Linked DNA regions of Homo sapiens. The protein of the gene in region 1 purifies or fractionates together with the protein of each later gene. This does not show direct contact. Each region holds a gene or a part of one and is shown on either strand. Other genes may lie near its edges.

Region 1 (6,392 bases):
ACTTGGGAGGCTGAGGCAGGAGAATCACTTGAACCCAGGAGGTGGAAGTTGCAGTGAGCTGAGGTCGTGCCATTGCACTCCAGCCTGGGCAACAGAGCAAGACTCCGTCTCATAAATAAAATAAAATAAAATACACATTTCCTTTTGGAACTTGGTAAATGATTCTCCAATATTATTAATATTCCTTAATGATCTGTAATGAAGACAAAATATTAAATAATAGCTTGGTGAAGAGGTCAACAAATGATTATTACTGTGCTAACTGTTCTCACTGTAATAGTATATATTATAGAAAACATACACCTGCATACTGCAGAATAAAGAAAAAAGTGAAAAAAGTAAAACAGAAACACTGGTTTCAAGTTCAGACACAGTAGGGTTTTAAAACCGTAATCCAAATCAGTGACTTGTACAATTTCTGAGCTTTAGTTTTCTAAGATGTTAAGACACTGGTTGTTGTGAACATTACAGAAAATAGTGCCTAACAAATTTTAAATGTTCAACATATTCCATATGCCATCAATATTTCCCTTGGAATGTGTTTAGTGTGGGAATGCCTATAGCAAAAATAAACAGTAATGCAAAGTCAGGATTCATGGCCAAACGTAACTATTTATTCATTTTTTTCTTATAAACATTGAGTTTCTTCTTTAAAAAAAAAAAAACACCTAGAATTTAAATATTTCCCATCCCATCACATACAAGTCTGTATACATTATTTACATCTTTTGAATAAAACATATTACAGATTTTCTGACATCAGTATCCCTTTTTAAACAAAAATGAAGCAATTAAACTTTGATCAGTAACAACTACAATTTGCATAATCCGGCACAGTTTGTAATATAGCGCCTATGTTGGATTTCATAACTTAGATGATTTTTCCCCTTCTAGTTACTTGATTATAAGAGAGAAACTGTCTCCATGAGAGTAGTTCCCTGTCTTTATGCACTCTTCTCAATACTTGCACAGTGTAAATGCCGCCCTTATTCTTCCATTACTTGGCACTGACAATATTCCTCTGCTTTTGTCTTCAGAAATGATTTCTATTTGAACTTTAAGTGTTCTCATATATACTGTATTCTCCTTCAACCCAGATTTCATGACACTGTTCCTAGTGTTAATTCTATGCAGTAAAAGTTAAACCTATAGGAAAAGTTCAAATAAAACATCAAGTAAGTGTTTCCTACAAGATTAGTGCCCTCACCACCCTGGTTATGCATGTACAATAATAAATACAAGTTAGTAGCTCCAAAAAAACTACTTTCCCTAAAAAGTCATTTCTGTCGAACAATTTAAGGAGCAAAGCATCCTTAAAATGAAAATGCACTAATCTTTTTTACAACCTGCACAATTAAGTATTTCAGAAAAACAAAAACTTGTGCAAAATGGTAAGAAACGCCCACCTATACAAATTTAATATTAAATCAGATGAGAACATGAATTTATAAGTAAAAAACAATTTAATATTAATAATATATAGAGAAATTAAATATTGAAATTTTAACTTTGTATCACTAATAATCTCAGCTTCAGTGAAATAATTTAAAAAAAGCTGTCAAACACTAATTTCCTAAATAAACTGAAACCTATGAATTGACAGTAAATACTTCAGAATCTCTAACAATGAAGACCTGCAAAATCAGCCTAATTATTTTCCAGTGTGTGTGTACACGCACAGTGGAAAAACATACAGCTGGAAAAAGCCAGTGATTTTACTATCTACCTTTGAGAACTATAGCCCATATTTTTCAATTATTTAGTTCTATATGCAGAAAAAGTTATTACATTTGCAAAACTCATTTTTGTATTTTCTCTCTTTTGTCAAAATGTGAATCAGTTCAGCTACAAGTGACAGACATACAGTGCAGTTTTATACCTTCAAAATGGATTATTCTCTGTGATCAGCCTATTAGGAAAGCCTTAAAAATTCAGAATCAACTGTGGTCAGAATTTTTGTTACATCTTCAAATTAAACTTTTCCATTAAATCTTAAGATAGCTTTACTGCTAAACATTTATCATATCATACACAATTAAGGTGATAGCTGAACAACAGTGATTTCCACGGTAAATTTTAATATTACAACAAAACTCTGATATTTAAGTTATTTAAGAGTAGTCCTTAAAGTGTTTCTAAGAATTGGTATATATTCTTTAATTTTAAAATAAGCTTAAAGTATAAATCTGTGTTTTTAAGAATTGGTAGATTCTTTAATATCCCAGATAAATTTCAAAATAAGGTAAGTTTTCTTATTGGTATGCAGTCACATTTCCAAATTATAAATATATTTTTGGTCCCACATCTTTTAAAAAGACATTAAAAGTTATAAATATATGAAAAGGTTATACAATTCTAAATATTTTGTGATATGTAGGCTTAAAACTCAGCATAATTAGTATATGAAACTTATTCCTATTTCTTTGTACAAAAATCTCCAGTCTTTTATTAAAGTCAAATTGTTCATCTGAGTGAAAACATTTAAAAAAAAATGGCAGTAAAGGCTGTTGTCTCCTTAAACTACTTCTATCTTAAATATTGGATCCACTTTTCCATAGTATCCATTCAATCAATACTATCCTACAGTAGTTAAAATTAAATTGAGAAGTTTTCATGAAAAGGAACAAAAATAGAAAACAAGTTCTAGAGAAAGGACTTGGTTTTTTTCCATTAGTATATCTAACTAAGGTAATTAAGGTAAGGTAATTAAGCTGAATGTTTTTAAAAAGTAAAACCTCCACATCCAAGTGATAATTTCCACTTCAAAATAGTGACATCAGGAAACTATTCTTTTATTCAATTATGCTACCAATGCTTAAAACATTCTCTTGTGCAAATTCGGAAATCATGGCACATTCCTTTGAACTTCCCTAATGGTTTAGCTCCAGAGAACAGCCAAATTTAAATTACAGTTGAGCTGATGATTAAGATAGGTCATACTGGCTGGCTGTGGTGGCTCACACCTGTAATCCCAGCACTTTGGGAGGCTGGGGAGGGCGGATCACTTGAGGTCAGGAGTTTGAGACCAGCCTGGCCAATATGTTGAAACCCCATCTCTACTAAAAATATGAAAATTAGCCAGGTGTGGTGCTGCCTGTAATCCCAGCTACTTGGGAGGCTGAGGCAGGAGAAATGCTTGAACCCAGGAGGTGGAGGTTGCAGTGAGCTGAGATCATGCCATTGTACTCCAGCCCGGGCAACAGAGCAAGACTCCATCTTAAAGAAATAAAAATAAAAAAAATAAAAAAAATTTAAAAAGGTCATATTAAGCTGCCAAAAGTGTTTAGTGTAACTAAAATGATGAAACTGATTTTCCTGCATAATAACAAACTGCTTTTCATGGTATGCTCTAGAACAGTTCCAAAAACATTATACTTTTGCAGTATAGCTGGAATAAACAGTGCTCCCAAAAGAACCACTCTGAAGATGAACTCTTATTTGGATGTTAAGGCATGACTTATTCACCTTAAAAAGAAAGTTCTACAACTCAATATTTGTATCTCACATATTCTACCATTTCAGTGGTTATCAAAACCTGTCTCAGAGAGGGGTAAACAAAAGTATAAATGAAATGTTGTTTTGCTATTTTCCCATAAGCAAGGAAAATGCTAATATATAAAATGGAGTCTGGTGGTTATATATGTAATATATAAATATCCACATCATCTCTATTTCCTGATAAGAGACTGTAGTGTTTTATCCATCCTGATAAGACAGGCAGTAACTCAGTCTGAGATATATTATACATAAAACGTATCTTCTCCTACCTAATACATTTTATGGTGACCATTTAGAATTTACAAATGACTAACAGAGGGAAGGTAGAAAGAGACTGCAATTAAAAGTCTTCCAATTTAAGGTAAATTAACCTCCAAAACCTCTACCAGCAACTAACATGCTTGTTAATTTAGTGCAGTCTAATGCCATGGTTTTTAAGAGAAAGGGAATAATCAAGTCAGCAAATGAAAGCCAGTAGCACCATCTACTGCTAATTAAAATATTTTCACTCTTTTTGTTATTAATTTCTCTCTACCACCACTACTCCATCAATTAAAGTAATTCCAAAACATTGCTTCGTATCAACATTTAACCAAAAAAAGCATTGTGTGTGACAATAATACTATGTTAACTTACTACTTTATATTTTATGGGATGCTTTTATCAAAGGATAAGAAAACCAACTGTTGCTTTATAGCTACGTATTAATATAGAGAGCAAGGGGGAAAATAATTATCTTGGTTACTTACAAATTAATTAAAGAAATCCAAAAAGAATCCAACAGACATTTATCAGCAAACTCTGCTGCAGAACAAAGCACTGATCCTTATATTTAAAAGGGCATCTTACTAACTTTCATGGGAACCAACCAAATCAACCTTTTATTACATCAGTTCTTTCACTTTCTGATTTTTTCCTTACTTGTAGCCATGTAACACCATGTGCAATGCCAGGCCTCTCCCCTAGAGAACTGCTATGCTTTGTTACCATATATACACATATATACATCTCCTTACTTCCCAGTGACTGTGATTAAAGAAATACTCTAAGCAGGCACCTGAGATTCTGGCACAGTGAAAACAAACTATCTACATATAGTGGGAAAGTAGGTCTTACTACTAAAAACAAGTACAGTGTACTACTGTATAAGGCTTGAAAGGGCAAGATTAATTTTTCACTATTCTCTCTATACTTGGCTATTGCAACTCCTTTTTTACTAGATTGATATGAAGTCAAATACAATATGGAAGACTGAGTAATTCTGTGCTTCATTTTCCTATATGGACAAGATTCAAAATCACCTCACAAATTTTATTTCTGAATCAACCCATAATGATTCATATTATCTATCTGAATACAAAAAGATTTAAGGAAATTAACTAGCTCTGACTGCAGTTTATAAATAAGCTTTACCAATAAATGTCCAAGATATTTAACTCTGCCAGGCTTTCCTGTTACTTCTACTGTTGGTACTTGGTAAATAATTGCTAGAAATGAAGTGGAGAAAAAGGCAGTTTCTAGTCAACATAATTGTAATGGCATTAAATTGTATCACTGCTCTACTTTAATGGCAAAACAAATTCATTTAATTTTAGATTCTTTTCTACTGAGTGTTTTTAATCTATACTATTTCAGAGCAAGCATTTCTTCCTAGATGTGAAAAAGGTATATGTTTCAACTGAAGGAAGGATATATATTTCTAACTGAAGAAAGATTTATCGAAAATGACAAAACTAAAACTGGATTTCTAAAAAGGGTATTTTCTAGAATAAAACTGAAGTGGAAAAATTAATATTTATTCTAAAAACTAAGTTTCTGAAATTGTTATTTATGGTAATAATTCACTAGAAAGTCATGGCGAATAAAATTTAGAAGTTAATAACTACTGAATTAGCATTTTTCATTATCTAATACTGCTGCAAAGAAAAACATTTCCTTTCAGGGTGGAAAAACCAGAAGTCAGAATGCTTCAAACTGGACCTATAATAACCAAAGAAGGTATGGTATCATCTTAAAATGACAGGCAAACATCAGCTCCATTCACTGAATGGAAATGCTAAGAAGTGATCAATTTCCCCCAACAGTCCTTAAATTCCATGTTTAATGTCTGTACCTAAAATTAATAATTTATTTTTAACTTCTCATGGAAGTTGATTCCTAAAAGGAAGTCTCTAAGACTTTGTTTATAAGTAATTGATTAAAATCTTCATGCCATTCTATTCAAAGGTTTTCAGACAAAACTTTCTAGAACTTGACTCCCCATCCCTAACTCCTCATACATACGAACATCTCCATGCCCCCAGCCAAATATACATTCCTATCCCCTTCTCTTCAAAGTAGAAGGGAATTCTGCAGACTTACGGCTCATTTGGCAATTACTAGGAAACCTCACAGTTCAGCATCACCTCTGAAGATGGCAATCCTATATATAACCTGAATTTTTACATCTACAGTGCAGTTAACATGTAGAAAGAAGCCAAAATGTAATACATTTCAACATCCTCAAGTTTCAGTATCACAGATATCAAGAGGTGGGAAAAGACCTGCTTGTAGAGCTTTAAGCATTGTTGAACGTAATATATTACCATCAATATAAAAAATAATTAAGAAATATTTTTTATGTTCTACATGCATACCTTTACAAATTCTGTTTCTTCAAAGCAGTAAAGGCTGGAAATCACCATTTTAGGTAAACTATGGCTTTTATCATAGATATGTTACAACATGCACCAGTAAGTGCCCTGGGTAGTAATCCTAATATTGTTTCAAGCCCTGTTCAGTTCTATATCTATGTTTTGCACCTCAGAAGTGAGCCTGCCAAGGCACTTAAAAACATAACTCTTTTGGGGACTTCATAAATGGGCCACAATTTATACCACACAGAAACCAATCCA
Region 2 (7,092 bases), on another chromosome or scaffold:
TTATAGAAGAGTCTGTGTTTAATTTAACATCAAAGTAATTGAAGATCACAAGGTTTACAGGATTCACAAATGGCCAGATTTTGAGTAAAAACCTATTCCTCAACTGCTGCTCTCTGAGTATAGCTAAAGGCAGCACTGATAGAATGCTGCTCAAAGGGAAGATATAAACCCAAACTTTGGCAGTTTTATCAAAATGTCCTTGATAATTAGTACTTCACTAGTTCTCAAAAACTTTACTGCTTTGTGTAACATTTTCAATACAGAAATAAAATACTCTTCAAATAATACATTTTAAAAGATGATTAAGTTTCACAAAATTAAATAGCATAAATTAATCATATTAACATTGGTATTTTTGACAACATGAAATAACCAATTTAAGGGAAACTGCAATGGACTAACTAAAAAACCACAAATGTCACAATGTGAGGCTCATTTAAATCCTCACATATTACTGACTTTACAAAATCTACTAAAATATTTTAAAGTTCCATTGACTCTATTAATACATTTAAAAAATTGCAAAAATGCTTAAGACTATGTAAGAGTCATCAATTACACAGGCACTTCACATGTAAACAATCTACAGTACAACTGAAAATATTTTGGCACCAACCTATAATACTAAAAGAATTTAATATAAAGCCAGAATTGTTTTTTCTACTCCTTTTTTCTAGAAAACTAAGACCAAAGATTGAAGAAATTGTGTATAAACTAGAATTAGAAGTGTATTAAATAACTCAAATATAGAATTGCTCTAAATTGCTAAAAAAAATTACCTTTATCCAGATGTTTACTAATATGCTATGATGTAAAAAAATTAAACCTAATGTGATTATTAAATTGAAACTACATTTTAAATTTAGTATCAGTCTGCTTTCTGAAAAATAATCAAGATTATCAACTGACTTAGTAAAAAGAGAATTTGAGTTTATCAAATACTCTTATTAAGTTAATCCAGTTTTCCCCCAAAGAAGTTCGGGCAATTCAATGTTTAAGTTTGATGTTTCAATGTAATTTTTTTAAAATCCTAAGGCGTGACCTAAGGCAAACTATTTTTGACGGAATATTCTTATTCATGAATTTGAAATATTTGAAATCACTTCAAATAAATGAAACTATACACTTAGAATTTTAAAATGTTATATTAAGCCACAGAAAGCTGAGATGCCTTGGTTGTTGGTAATTCAAGGAGCGCCTGAACTGTGACACCAACTTTCACAAGTCCTCGTTCTTCCAAAATATGATGAGGCAAACAAAGTCTTTCCTGGAGAAAAAAAAGAGATATTTGAACATTCATTTTTTAGAAGTGTAATAAAATTAAGTCAGAATTTGATTTTAAAAACATGATTTCTATAAAATGTCAAGAAAACTACATAATTCTAAGTTTTCTCTTATAAATATTGTAATCTAAAATGTTTTTAGATTCTTAATTTATACTAAGAAAAAAGATTATAGAAGTCGGCCTTGTTTGAAATGCTGTCATTCCACACTTGTACCTCTTTCTCTACAAAGAAAATGTTTATAAAAGAGTTGGTCACCACTTTTGGATTTCCCACTCACTACTCAACCACTGCTATCTTACATCTAACCCTAAAGCATATGCCCACTAAAACTATTTTAGTAAAAATCACCAATGCCATCTTAAATGTCAAATGTTGCACATGTCTAGTTGACTGCTCAGTCATATTATGCCTTTGATTAATGCCTTTCTGGGAACCTTACTCCTCCCCTGTCTTGTGTGACACCATTCTTTTCTACTTCAACTTTTCTGACAGCAATTGTGCAGTAGCTTTCATTAATTAGCCCTCACCGATCCTCTTCCAACATTCCAAATGTTTCCAAGGGTTCTGTCTTCACTCTCTTCTCTTTTACACTATACCCTCTCTTTTGGTATTCTCATCTATTTCTAGTTTTAACTACCCCTTCCATACCGATGGCTTCCAAGTTTTTATTTCCTCCCAAGATCTCTCTATTGATCTCCAAATACAATATCAACTGGACACAGCCAAATGGACATCTAACAGACATATCAAAATCAATGTGTCCACAACAGAACTACTTTACCAAATTAATTTGCCCTTCTGCGATCCATGTCTTAGTAATACACTATTCAATCTCCATTGACAAACCTGTGAAATATAATAGTCTTCCTCTTTCTTCCTTACTCCCATAACCCATTCTCCAAATACTAATGATGGTATCCCATAAAGAGTTCTCAAAATTATTGCCTCATCTCCATCTTCACTGCTATATTTGTTGCCCTCTTAATATTTTGCTTATTTATTCAAATAACCACTGAAGTGTATGCTAGAAAAGAAGGAAGGCTTCAAATCAATGACTTCAGCTTCCACCCTAGAAACTAAAAAAAGAAGAGCAAATTAAACCAATGGCAAAAGAATGGTGCAAATAATGAGAATGAGAGAGGAAAACAATAAAGTAAAAAAACAAAAAACAATAGATAAAAAAAATCAATGCAACCCAAAGTTAGTTCATTTAGAAGATTTTTAAAAATTCATAAACCTCAAGCTAGGCTAATCAGGAAGGAAAGAGAGAATACACAAATTACCAATATCATAAATAAGGGAAGTGACACCACAAGATATTCTACAAATACCAAAATGATAATAAGGAGACATTATAAATAACTTCATAATAATAGTTTGACAAGTTAGATGAAATGGATGAATTCTTTGAAAGAATAATTAAATGATTCTGTAAAGAGAAACTCCTAAGGCACAGAAACACACACAAAAAAACTATTATAGAACTAATAAATGAGTTCTGCAAGGTTGCAGAATACAAGATCAATAAAAGAAAATCACTTCTATTTCTATGAAGTAGCAATAAAAAATTGACAGTGGAATTAAAGAAATAATTATATTTATAATAGTACCAAAGAGAATAAAATACTAAGCATTTAATTTAACAAATCTAATGAAAGACTCATACACTGAAAACTACAAAACACTGTTGGAATAAAAATTAAAAGATATAAATAAATGGAAAGATGTCTCATGTTAATGGATCACAGGAATAAACATTGTGAAGATGACAATATTCCCCAAATCATTTTAGATTCGGTAATCCCAGCAAAATCCCAAGTGGCTTTTTTGCAGAAATTGACAAGCTAATCAATCCTAAAATTGATATGGAAATGCAAGGGACTCAGTATAGCCAAAACAACCTTGATACAGAACAAATGTGGAAGACTCACACTTCTTGATTTCAAAATGCATCACAAAATTACAGTAAGCAAGACAGTGTGATACTGGAATAAGGAATTTAGTGGTAAAAAAAACTGAGAATCCAGAAATAAAGCCTTATATTTATGGTCACCTGATTTTTGACAAAGGTGCTAAGACAGACAATTCAATGGGGAAAAGAAGAGTCTTATCAACAAATGGTGCTGGGAAAATTGGATATCCACATGTGAAAGAATGAATTTGGATCCGTACCTCATACCATGCACAAAACTGATCTCAAAATGGATCACAGACAAAAAGGTAAGCCCTAAAACTATAAAACTTTTAGAAGAAAACACAGGTGTAAATCTTTGTGACCCTGAATTACACAATGTTTTCTTAGATATGATATCAAAATCATAAGCAGCAGAAGAAAAAATGGGATAAACTACACTTCATCAAATTAGTAACTTTTGTGCTGTAAATGATACCATCAAGAAAGTGAAAAGACAACCTGCAGAATGGGAGAAAATATTTGCAAATCATGTATCTCTTAGGCAATTTGTATCCAGAATACATAAGGAACTACAACTCAAAAAAAAAAGATAAATAATCTAACTCAGAAATGAACACAGGGTTTCAATAGACATTACTCCAAAGAACATATACAAATCAATAAGCACAAGAAAAGATGCTCAACATCATTAACTACTAGGGAAACGCAAATCAAAACCGCAATAAGATATCACATCACATACACACTAAAATAGCTACAACCAAAAAGGTAGACAGTAGTAGCCATTGTTGGTGATGATGTGAAGAAATTAGAACCCTCATATATTGCTGGTGGAAATGTAAAAATAGTGCAGCCACTTTGCAACATATTTTGTCAGTTTCTTAAAAAATATAAACATAGAGTTACCATATAACCTAACAATTTCACTGCTAGGTATAACCAAGAGAACTGAAAACAAGTGTTCAAAGAAAAACTTATTCACGGATGTTCAAAGCAACATTATTCATAATAAACAATGAGTGATAACAATCCAAATGTCTATCAACTGATGAATGGATAAACAACATGTGGTATGTATTTAGAACAGAACACTATTCAGCCATAAAAAGAAATGAAGTACTGATTTAGGCTACAAATGGATGAACCTTGGAAAAATTATACTAAGTCAAAGAAGCCAGACACTAAAGACCACATATTGTATGATTTCATTATATGTCATGTCTAGAGTAGGCAAATCCATAGAAAGAACAGAGGAAGGACTGCGAATGGGCAAGGGCTGTGTTTCTGGGGTGACGAAAATATTTTAAACAGATTGTTGTTAACTGTTGCTGAACTCTGTGATTATGCTAAAAACCATTTAATTGTACACTTTAAATCAGTGAATGCTATGGCATTGTAATTATATCTCAATAAAAATATTTTCTTAAAAAAATCAATGTATATGCCCAATCTCAGGCTTAAAAAAAGAGAACTTCAATCCATACTTTTTAACCACATACAAAAACTAACTCAAAATTGATCATAGACATGAACACAAAACCTAAGATTATAAAATTTCCAGAAGTAAACATAGGAAAGAAATCTTTGTGGCCTTGGATTATACGAAGATTTCCTAGGTTTGACACAAAAAGCACAGCCCATTTTAAAAAATAAATTGTACTTCAATAAGTGAAGATCCTGCTCCTTGAAAGACACTCTAAGGACAATGAAAGGACAAGCCAAAGATTTGGATGCAATATTTATAAATCTGGTAAATGTCTTTATCCATAACTTGTAAAGAAATCTGAAATTCAATCATAGGAAAATAAACAACCCAATACAAAATATACCTCAGATTAGAATATGTACTTCAAAAAAGAAAGTATACTTCAAAGTACTTCAAAAAGAAGATATACAGGTGGCAAATAAGCCTTGAAAAGATGATCGGCATCATTAGTCTTTAGGAAAATGCAAATTAAAACTGCACTGGCAAGTCAGTACATACATATCACAATGACTAAAATTTTTAGAAGATTGATCATACTGAATGTTAGTGAGGATGTGGAGGAACTGGAACTCTCACATACTGCTGACAGGAATGTAAAACAGTACAACCACTTTGGAAGAGTTATGTAGTTTCTTAAAATGTTAAGTATGCACTTCCATATGTTCCAGTTATTCCACTGCTAGGTATTTACTAAAAATTAAAGAATGTATAAATCCATACAAAGACTTGTATACAAATGTTCATAGCAGCTTTATTTGTAGCAGCCGCTAAAACTGGAAACAACCCAAATGTCCATCAGCAGGTCAAGGGATTAACAAACTGTGGTATATCCATACAATAAAATACTATCCAGAAATGAACAGCAATGGTCTATTCATACATGCAACAACACTGACGAGTCATAAAATAATTATGCTGAGTGAAAGAAGATAGAAAAATATAATACATATTGTATCATTCCATTTATATAAAACTCTAGAAAGTGCAAACTAATCTGCAATGACAGAAAGCAGATTAGTGGTTGCTGGAGAAAGAAGGATTGCAAAGACACATGAGGAAATTTTGGGGGGCAGTAGATATGTTCATTATTTTGACTGTGGTGATGATTTCATGGTGTATGCATATGTCAAAATTGATCAAATTGTACACTTTATTTATATGCCCTATATTGTATGTTAATAACTCAATAAGGCTGTTAAAAATTGGAAAACATCCTAAAACAAAGAAAATTAATTTAAAAATTATTATATATTACCAATTCTGAGTTCAGAGAAAAGCAATGAAGCTAAAAATAAAACCCTTAAAACAAAAATGACATAATATTAGTGAGGTAGTGAATGCTTGTAATCCCAGTTATTTGTGAAATGGAAGTCTAGAGCTCAGGAGTTCCAGTCCAGCCTGGGCAACACAGTCAGACTCCATCTCTAAAAAAAGGGTTTTTTTTAACCCTTCAAAAAATTAATGAATCCAGGAGCTGGTTTTTTGAAAGGATCAACAAAATTGATAAACCGCTAGCAAGACTAATAAAGAAAAAAAGAGAGAAGAATCAAATAGACACAATAAAAAATGATAAAGGGGACATCACCACTGATCCCACAGAAAAACGAACTACCACCAGAGAATACTACAAACACCTCTACGCAAATAAACTAGAAAATCTAGAAGAAATGGATAAATTCCTCTACACATACACCCTCCCAAGACTAAACCAGGAAGAAGTTGAATCTCTGAATAGACCAATAACAGGATCTGAAATTGTGGCAATAATCAATAGCTTACCAACCAAAAAGAGTCCAGGACCAGATGGATTCACAGCTGAATTCTACCAGAGGTACAAGGAGGAACTGGTACCATTCCTTCTGAAATTATTCCAATCAATAGAAAAAGAGGGAATCCTCCCTAACTCATTTGATGAGGCCAGCATCATCCTGATACCAAAGCCGAGCAGAGACACAACCAAAAAAGAGAATTTCAGACCAATATCCTTGATGAACATTGATGCAAAAATCCTCAATAAAATACTGGCAAACTGAATCCAGCAGCACATCAAAAAGCTTATCCACCATGATCAAGTGGGCTTCATCCCTGGGATGCAAGGCTGGTTCAATATACGCAAATCAATAAATGTAATCCAGCATATAAACAGAACCAAAGACAAAAACCACATGATTATCGCAATAGATGCAGAAAAGAACTTTGACAAAATTCAACAACCCTTCATGCTAAAAACTCTCAATAAATTAGGTATTGATGGGACGTATCTCAAAATAATAAGAGCTATCTATGACAAACCCACAGCCAATATTATAATGAATGGGCAAAAACTGGAAGCATTCCCTTTGAAAACTGGCACAAGACAGGGATGCCCTCTGTCACCACTCCTATTCAACATAGTGTTGGAAGTT

What was found.
Region 2: the proteins of MOB1B (region 1) and LRCH2 purify together in Homo sapiens (affinity purification with mass spectrometry; 3 studies listed by BioGRID and IntAct, with this or other methods). This does not show direct contact.

What each region holds. Positions count from the first base shown.
Region 1 is NC_000004.12:70,982,369-70,988,760, reverse strand, and holds the end of MOB1B (MOB kinase activator 1B), read right to left. Parts: 3' UTR 593-6,392; downstream 1-592. UniProt on the Homo sapiens protein: Activator of LATS1/2 in the Hippo signaling pathway which plays a pivotal role in organ size control and tumor suppression by restricting proliferation and promoting apoptosis.
Region 2 is NC_000023.11:115,112,069-115,119,160, forward strand, and holds part of LRCH2 (leucine-rich repeat and calponin homology domain-containing protein 2), read right to left. Parts: intron 1,268-7,092; coding exon 1,148-1,267; 3' UTR 1-1,147. UniProt on the Homo sapiens protein: May play a role in the organization of the cytoskeleton.